2 linked regions of the Homo sapiens genome follow. The protein of the gene in region 1 interacts with the protein of each later gene in a pairwise test. Each region holds a gene or a part of one and is shown on either strand. Other genes may lie near its edges. The genes, in order: CXCR2 and SLC18A2.

What was found.
Region 2: the proteins of CXCR2 (region 1) and SLC18A2 interact in binary tests that used the Homo sapiens proteins (3 or more experiments, as listed by UniProt).

Annotation. Positions count from the first base shown.
Region 1 is NC_000002.12:218,132,528-218,136,336, reverse strand, and holds part of CXCR2 (C-X-C chemokine receptor type 2), read right to left. Parts: intron 1,561-3,809; 5' UTR 1,536-1,560; coding exon 453-1,535; 3' UTR 1-452. UniProt on the Homo sapiens protein: Receptor for interleukin-8 which is a powerful neutrophil chemotactic factor. Binding of IL-8 to the receptor causes activation of neutrophils. This response is mediated via a G-protein that activates a phosphatidylinositol-calcium second messenger system.
Region 2 is NC_000010.11:117,239,463-117,243,916, reverse strand, and holds the start of SLC18A2 (synaptic vesicular amine transporter), read right to left. Parts: upstream 2,804-4,454; 5' UTR 2,697-2,803; intron 2,257-2,696; exon of another isoform or gene 2,239-2,256; 5' UTR 2,224-2,238; coding exon 2,103-2,223; intron 2,033-2,102; exon of another isoform or gene 1,920-2,032; intron 1-1,919. UniProt on the Homo sapiens protein: Electrogenic antiporter that exchanges one cationic monoamine with two intravesicular protons across the membrane of secretory and synaptic vesicles.

The sequences.
Region 1 (3,809 bases):
TCAGCCTCCCAAGTAGCTGTGATTACAGGCACTCACCACCACGCCCGGCTAATTTTTTTTTTTTTTTGTATTTTTAGTAGAGACAGGGTTTCACCCCGTTGGCCAGCCTGATTTTCTTTCTTTTGATACTAGCCATCCTAATGAGTATGCAGAGCTGTCTCACTGGAGTGTAGATTTTCACTTCTTAGAACATAGAGTGCCATGGGCTCAGGGGCAGGATGGGCAGAGCTCCAGCAAATGACATAGTAATTATGGCAAGGGGTGAGGCACCAGGGCAAGCTTTCTAAACCATGCAAGGGAAACTAGTAAGAACGTGGCCTCCTCTACTTCCTGTGACCACAATGGGGGCTGCATTGACACTGAGACCAAGAAGAACCAGTGGACATGAGGCTTGGAATGTGACTGTGAAGAGAAGGGAGGAACCCCACGGGGCTGCACTTAGGCAGGAGGTCTTAGAGAGTAGTGGAAGTGTGCCCTGAAGAAGAGCCAACAAAGGAAGGCCTGCTGTCTTTGGGCAGGGAGTCCTTGCTGATCAAGCCATGTATAGCTAGAATCTTGAGGAGTCCATGGCGAAACTTCTGGCCAATGAAGGCGTAGATGAGGGGGTTGAGGCAGCTGTGAAGGATGCCCAGAATCTCGGTGGCATCCAGAGCCCGGTCGATGTGATTGCGGCGCTCACAGGTCTCCTGGATCACCTGGGTCCTCATGAGGGTGTCTGCCAGCAGGACCAGGTTGTAGGGCAGCCAGCAGAGCAGGAAGATGAGGACGACAGCAAAGATGACCCGCATGGCCCGGTGCTTCTGCCCCATGTGGGCCTTAAACAGCGTACGCAGGGTGAATCCGTAGCAGAACAGCATGATCAGCAGTGGCACGATGAAGCCAAAGGACTGGGGCAGGATCCGTAACAGCATCCGCCAGTTTGCTGTATTGTTGCCCATGTCCTCATAGCAGGCTGGGCTAACATTGGATGAGTAGACGGTCCTTCGGAAAAGTAAGACAGGCAGGGCCAGGAGCAAGGACAGACCCCAGATGCTGAGACATATGAATTTGACCAAGTAGCGCTTCTGGGTCAGTGTGCGTGTGGCATGGACAATGGCCAGGTAACGGTCCACACTGATGCAGGCCAGTAGCAGGATGCCACTATAGAAGTTGACTTCCTTCAGGAGTGAGACCACCTTGCACAGGAATGTGCCAAAAATCCAGCCATTCACCTTGGAGGCGGCCCAGATGGGCAAGGTCAGGGCAAAGAGTAGGTCGGCCAAGGCTAGGTTCAGCAGGTAGACATCAGTGACGGAGCGGCCGACCCTGCTGTATAAGATGACCAGCATCACGAGGGAGTTTCCCAGCAGGCTCAGCAGGAATACCAGGGCATAGATAATGACCACAAAATACTTGTTGATTTCCAGGGATTCTGGTTCACATGGGGCGGCATCTAGTAGAAAAGGGGGCAGGGTAGAGCTGTAACTGTAATTACTAAGATCTTCACCTTTCCAGAAATCTTCAAAGCTGTCACTCTCCATGTTAAAATCTTCCATTTTTGAGGTAAACTTAAATCCTGACCTATAGAAGAGAGATGAAGGTTACTGCATAATAAATTCCCCATATTCTTGCCCATCCACTCAAGAAACTGGGATAGGATTCTTTGTGTTGGCTTGAGTATTACAATGTAGTAATTTTTCCCTTCAAATTTGTAAGTGGTAGCTCTTAGGTTATGAGATAAATTTGGTGATAAATGGTACATTTTATGAGAGGACCATAGTTCTCTTTAATATAAGAGAGAAATTCTTAGCATTTCTTTTAGCATCGCCATCACCTAAAACTTTGTAGAAAGTTCTCTTTGGATAATCCCCACAGAACCCTCAATACTACCTGGATCCTTCAGTGGCGAGCATCTTTGGCTATCAAGGCTGGGTTTAATGTTCAGAAATGTGAGATGTGAGATGTCACTCAGTTCTTTTTTTTTTGTCTTAGAGATGGGGACTTGTTATGTTGCTCAGGATGGTCTTAAACTCCTGACCTTAAGTAATTCTCCTGCCTCTGTCTCCCAAAGTGCTGGGAATATAGGCATGAGCCACTGCACTCAGCCCCATTCAGTTTTTAATCAGGGGATTAAGCAGGAACTCCAAATGGGCTATACCCTCAGAAAAGATCATGGTTTGACTATAAAGCTGAGACATGAATCCCTTTGTTCAATTTTCTAAAAGTTATTTTAAAAGATGTATTCTGGAAAATGGTTTGAACAATTGTGGCATGGAGTTTTGGAAGGCTCGAGCTAGCAGAGTCTTCAGTTAATTAGTAAGGCCCAGCGTTTCTCTTTTGGGTAGAAGGAGACCCGCTTTGGGAATGTCTGTGTAGTTTGGAAAAGTATATTAAAAACAATAAGCAAGCGGGCTGCCTGATTCTCCCTGTGGGTGGAAACGTAACAGGTTATTTGGGGAGCTCTGGGCAGCCATGTGCCACCATGCGGGATAAGCAGACACAGCCAGTCTGCTACCCAATAAGAGAGGGGCAGCAGGAAGCAGAGAAGACAGGGTTTGCACTACCCTTGCTTGGTGGCTTTCCAGCCCTGCTGGAGACCCTTCCTGTCCTGCATGTGTGTGCCTCCATCTAGCCTTGACTCCCCTGTTCCTCTCAGATTTAGTCTAGCTCCTGGGGCTCTGCCCTTGCCACAGGGACAGCACAGATCCTGCTCTGGGGAAGCCTGGGTGTGGAGGGTGGGCTGCAGTTATTCAAAAATATTATCCCAGTGGTGGCTCACACCTGTAATCCCAGCACTTTGGGAGGCTGAGGTGGCAGATCACTTGAGGTCAGGAGTTTGAGAGCAGCCTGGCTAACATGGTGAAACACTGTCTCTACTAATAATACAAAAATTAGCCAGGTATGGTGACGTGCACCTGTAATCCCAGCTACTTGGGAGGCTGAGGCACAAGAATTGCTTGAACCCAGGAGGTGGAGGTTGCAGTGAGCCGAAATCACATCACTGCACTCCAGCCTGGGCAACAGAGCGAGACTCTGCCTCAAAAAAAAAAAAAAAAAAAAAAAAAAATCCCAGTTTCTCAAAGCAGTCAACTAAAGCAATCCAGCTCCCTAATTAGCTTCTTTCTGAACCACAAAATAGATCACCCTCCGGCCATTGCCTTAGAGTAAGGGATGACCACCCTACCACCAACCATGTCCAAGTCCGTAATCTACCCCCAAAATGGAACCCAGTGTGAGAGAAAAACCAGGAAGTTAAAGGTCCCAGAACCCACTTCACACTCACCAGGCTGGGCACACTCAGAAAAAGATGCCCAAGAACAATGTGGGTGAGGAAGTGGAAAAGTCAGAACTCTCCCACATTGCAGGTGGGAATGTAAGATGGTGCAGCTGCTTTGGAAAACAGCTTAGCAGTTGCTCAAAAAAGTTAAACATAGAGTTACCACATGAACCAGCAAACCCCAACCTAGGTATACACCCAAGAGAATTGAAAGCTAATGTTCATAGTAGCATTCATCATTAAGGCCAAAAAGTGGAAACAAACCAAATATCCATCAACTGATGAACGGACAGACAAATTGAGGAACAGTCATGAGCAACTGAAAGACTTTTTGGTCAATGACACATCACAAATACCACAGTGGTCCCATAAGATTATAATACTGTATTTTTAGTGTTCTTTTCCTATGTTTATATATAAGAATACCATTGTGTTATAATTACCTACAGTATTTAGTACAGTAACATGCTGAGTAGGTTTGTAGCCTAGGAGCAGTACTCTACCATATAGCCCATGTGTGTAGTAGGCTATAGCATCGTATACTCTACCATGT
Region 2 (4,454 bases), on another chromosome or scaffold:
AAAAAAGCCAGCAAAAAACTATGGTTGTGTCGGCAGGGAGCAGTGGCTCACACCTGTAATTCCAGGACTTTGGGAAGCTGAGGCAGGTGGATCACCTGAGGTCAGGAGTTCGAGACCAGGCTGGCCAACATGGAGAAACCCTCTCTCTACTAAAAATACAAAAATTAGCTGGGCGTGGTGGCACCCACCTGTAATCCCAGCTCCTTTGGAGGCTGAGAAAGGAGGATCGCTTGAACCTGGGAGGTGGAAGTTGCAGTGAGCAAAGATTGCACCACTGCACTCCAGCCTGGGTGACAGAGTGAGACTCTGTCTCAAACAAACAAAACAACAATAACAACAACAAAACTATGGTTGTGTCAAATGCCAGAAGAGGTCCAGAGGGTGACAGGTCTACCCCAAAACAGGAGCCCTGTGCCATATGTCTATAACGACATTGGAGCAAGTTCACTTTACTTAGCTCACTAGAAAGAACCATGCCCCCAACGGCCCTGAGAACTGTCTCCTCTCAAAAGGCAGCTGCTGTGCTGAACTGACTGGTCCCAGAGATTCTGTCATTTGTGGGTTTCTTCCACATTGTTCCTTCAAGGAATATTTCAGAAAAGCAAAATGTGGCCTGACGTTAAGAGAGTGCTGACCTGGAGTCAACCAGTGCTTCTAAGAAAGAGAGGCTCAAAAGACTTTCAAATGAATGAATCAAGGAAACAGAAAACTACACTTCATTATGTGTCTTAGAAAAAAATTAACCTGCAGGAAGTAATAACTTGGAAATTCTGCAACAGGCCCACTTCATCCTTCTATTATGAGTGGGAATCTGTAATTTTTCCTACAACTTGTAAGATTTAAGAATTCCTAAGGCTTTCACAAGGAAAAAGCAAAACTGAAACAGGCCAGGCACGGTGGCTCAGGCCTGTAATCCCAGCATTTTGGGAGGTCGAGGCGGGTAGATCACCTGAGGTCAGGAGTTCAAGACCAGCCTGGCCAACATGGCAAAATCCTGTCTCTAATAAAAATACAAAAATTAGCCAGCTTTGGTGGGGCATGCCGGTAACCCAGCTACTCGGGAGGCTAATGCAGGAGAATCACTTGAACCCGGGAGGTGGAGGTTGCAGTGAGCCAAGACTGTGCCACTGCCCTCCAGCCTGGGCAACAGAGTGAGACTCCATTTCAAAAAAACAAACAAAAACCAAAATAAAAAGCAACAACAAAAAATACAAATTAAATTGTGAAACATATAATCGAAGCTGTGAGCACATGTGTCCAATGGAGCATTCGAGCCGAAGCAGAACTAATGCCGTTGGTACTGAACAGGGATGAGCTCCACGGCTCTGATAACTCCTCGAGATGAAACCTATCAGATGCTCTGAAAACTGCTGTGAGAAAACCTGCAAATGGAGAGAAAGGAAACAGCTCCCACCACTTACAGTCTAAATGAGTCGTGATTTTTTTTTCATTCATTAAAAACTGGGATTTTTTTTTTTAAGGAAATGCATGCCAAATACTTCTCTGTTAATGGGCCTAATTAAGGGACCTGGATTTCGATTATTTAATTTTTCAAAATTCCACTATAGGAAAAATAATAGAACCAAGATTGTTCAAATTGTTCTTGCAATGGTTCCTGAAATATTTCCATCTCAAGTCATTCACTAATACAGTATATCTAAATGTCTTGTTTTTGGAGTAAGGGATCGAAACTTGCTCTTTTAGGTACTACACCAAATTACTAACCTGCCTTTTCGAGTAGCCCAATAATTATTCTAACACGTAATTTTGAACTTTAGGAATTTCTCTTTTGGAACAGAAATCTTTTTCATCGCAGTGAAAGCAGGCAAGAGGATGCGGGAAATTATCAGGGGGAAACATAAGTTCTGGGTCTTATCGGATGTCACAGTTTTTGACCCGAGCATCAGGAAAGCGAAGCCACACAACGCGGCTCCTCCTAGCCCCGGCGCGGCAGCCTGGAGGGGATGTCTTTTTTGCAAAGCGAGTTCTCCAACTTTCCCGGGCCTTGGCGGAGCTCCGGGACCGCGCAGGGGTAAGTGGAGTGCCGGGGAAGGGGCGCTGGGGCTGGGGTGCCGGGGCAGGGGTGCCCTGTCCGCACGTACCCACGACAGTGAGCAGCATGTTGTCCAGCAGCAGCGCCAGGAACACGATGAACAGGATGAGCTTCCGCGAGCGGCGGCTCTCCTGCAGCCAGCGGACCAGCGCCAGCTCGCTCAGGGCCATGGCTCCGGGGCTCCGCTGCGGGCGCGGTGCGCGGTGAGGACCCAAGGCGGCCGTGGACCCCCCATTCTCCCGTCCCCCAGGCCGCGGAAGGGCGGGTCAGGGAGCCGCGCGCACCGGCATCCGGGGACACCCCCGGGCGCCCCAGCCTCGGCTCACCTGCCTCGAGCGCGTCCCCACGAGAGCCCGCGCTCCCTGGAAAGAGCGCCCGCGAGCGCCGTCGGGGACCCAATCTGGAGACCCAACCTAGAACCCCCAGGACGCTGCCCTGATCCCCGCCGCCCCCAACTGTGCCACCTCCCAAACTGCACGCTCGGCCCCGTGCACCTTGCGCCCTGCGCCCTGCGCCCCGGCTGCCCCGGGGTCCCCGCAGCCCCGCCCGCGTAGCTCTGGGGGCCTCCCTGCCTCCCTGCCTCCCCCGGGCCCGCTCCCCTCCGGCACCGCGCCCTGCGAGCAGGGAACCGGGGCCGTGTTACCTCGGGGTCGCTTGCGATGCCTGCCCGGGTCCTCCGTGCCCGCGCCAACGCCCGCACCGCAGTGGGCTCCGTCAGTCCGGGCGGCTCCGGGTCGCAGTCTCCGCCCCAGCGCCCCGCCGCCGCCGCTCAGTTTACCCCGTCCGGCTCTGACGTCACGGCCGGAGGGAGCGGGGGCGGGGGGCTGGGGCGCCCCGGCCTCCGCCCGCCCGCGCCGTCGCTGCGCAGGAGGGGCTGCCGCCTCCCTGTCCCCGCCTCGGCCGCGGCCGCGCCTCTTCCCCGGACCCAGCGCGTGGCCGAGTGCCTTGGGGACCCAGGCCTGGGGAAGAGGCAGGGGCGCAGAGGGAAAGAGGTCAGAGAGCCTGGACGAAGAGTGAAGGGCCAGGGACCAAGGCGAGGAGGCACGGACCAGGGCTTTCTTGTGGCTCCAAGTGGTGGCTCGAGCTGCTTTGAATAAATCACGTGGCTCTTTGAGCCTCAGTGTCCCTGAAATGGGCCGTGAGGACGGGAATGATGGCCGCGGGGTGAGATCGCCAGGGGTGACAGGTGCTGGGAGCCAGGGACAGGCTTCCCTTTCCTGAAGAAGCCACCCTTTGCACCCACCATCCCCTCCCCTCTCCGACCTCTGCAGCCCGATGCGGGGTGCCACTCGGAGGAGCCTTTGAGCCTTGGGCATCCTCAAGCTGGTGACTTGGAAACGGGGGGGGGAAGGGGACACTTTTCAGTGTCGCCCTATGGTGGGAGTTGGGGAGGTGAGGGTCCCAGGTCTCAGAAAGTGGGAGCAGTGGGTTTGGGCCTCTGGGGCCACCTGAGCAGGGGACCCTGGAGGCTAGGTGAGTACACCTGGCCTCAGAGAAAGGGCTAGGGGGCGGGCTGTGGGCGGGGCAGCAGGCCTAGGCCCTGTGTCCTGTACTCTCTCCCCACCATGCTGTGCCTGGGCGTCTGGGTGAGAGGTGGTTCCTAGAGCCAGGGGCCTGCGTGTGGCTGGTGCAGAGCTGTCATCCTCACTGCTAAGGGCTAAGAGCCTGCCTTTGATTTCCAGGTCCCTTTTATAAGCAAAGGAGAAACAAACAGATGCCCTCTGACATCGCTGGAGCTCTGCAGGCCCTCCGAGGGGACCGTGGGAGCAAGAGCTGTTTTCTTGAAAAGCTACCTAGAATAAATGTTACCCTGTCACAGTCTCTTAGCAGAAGAGTGGGCTTGTTTTATTAATGTTAGCTTGTTGACAGCAGGAGGCCACTGAGAACAGCAGTGTGATGTGTGGCTGCCCCCGCTCTCTCCACCTCCCTACTCCCTTGCAGAGACCCCCTGTGCTTCTCATTGCTACCCCATGTGTGAGAAGAGATGGTTGAATAGGTAAGTAGGTCAGGAACATGGGTCTCCAGGATGTCACAGGATGTGCACAACTTAAACATTAAACAGGGAGGACAGAAGGAAAACCACTTAGGAGGAGGAAGCAGATGGCAGAGAGCCGTTTAAGATGGCAGGAGGGTATCACTCAGGGAGTGCCCCAGAGTGCTTGCTCTGGAGTTTCAGAACCCAAGGATGCAGACTCTACCCCAGGGACCACATGGGGACAGAGAGGCATTATGGTAAAGGGTGCCTGCCAGGATGCCCAGGTCCCAGTCTGCTACTTCCTTGACTGGTGGCCTTGGGCTGGTTATGTATCCTCTTTGTGGCTTAGTTTCGCCATCTCTGGAATGGGGATACTCACTGGACCTACTGCAGCGTGGTTGTGAGAATTCCAGGGGAATGCATAGG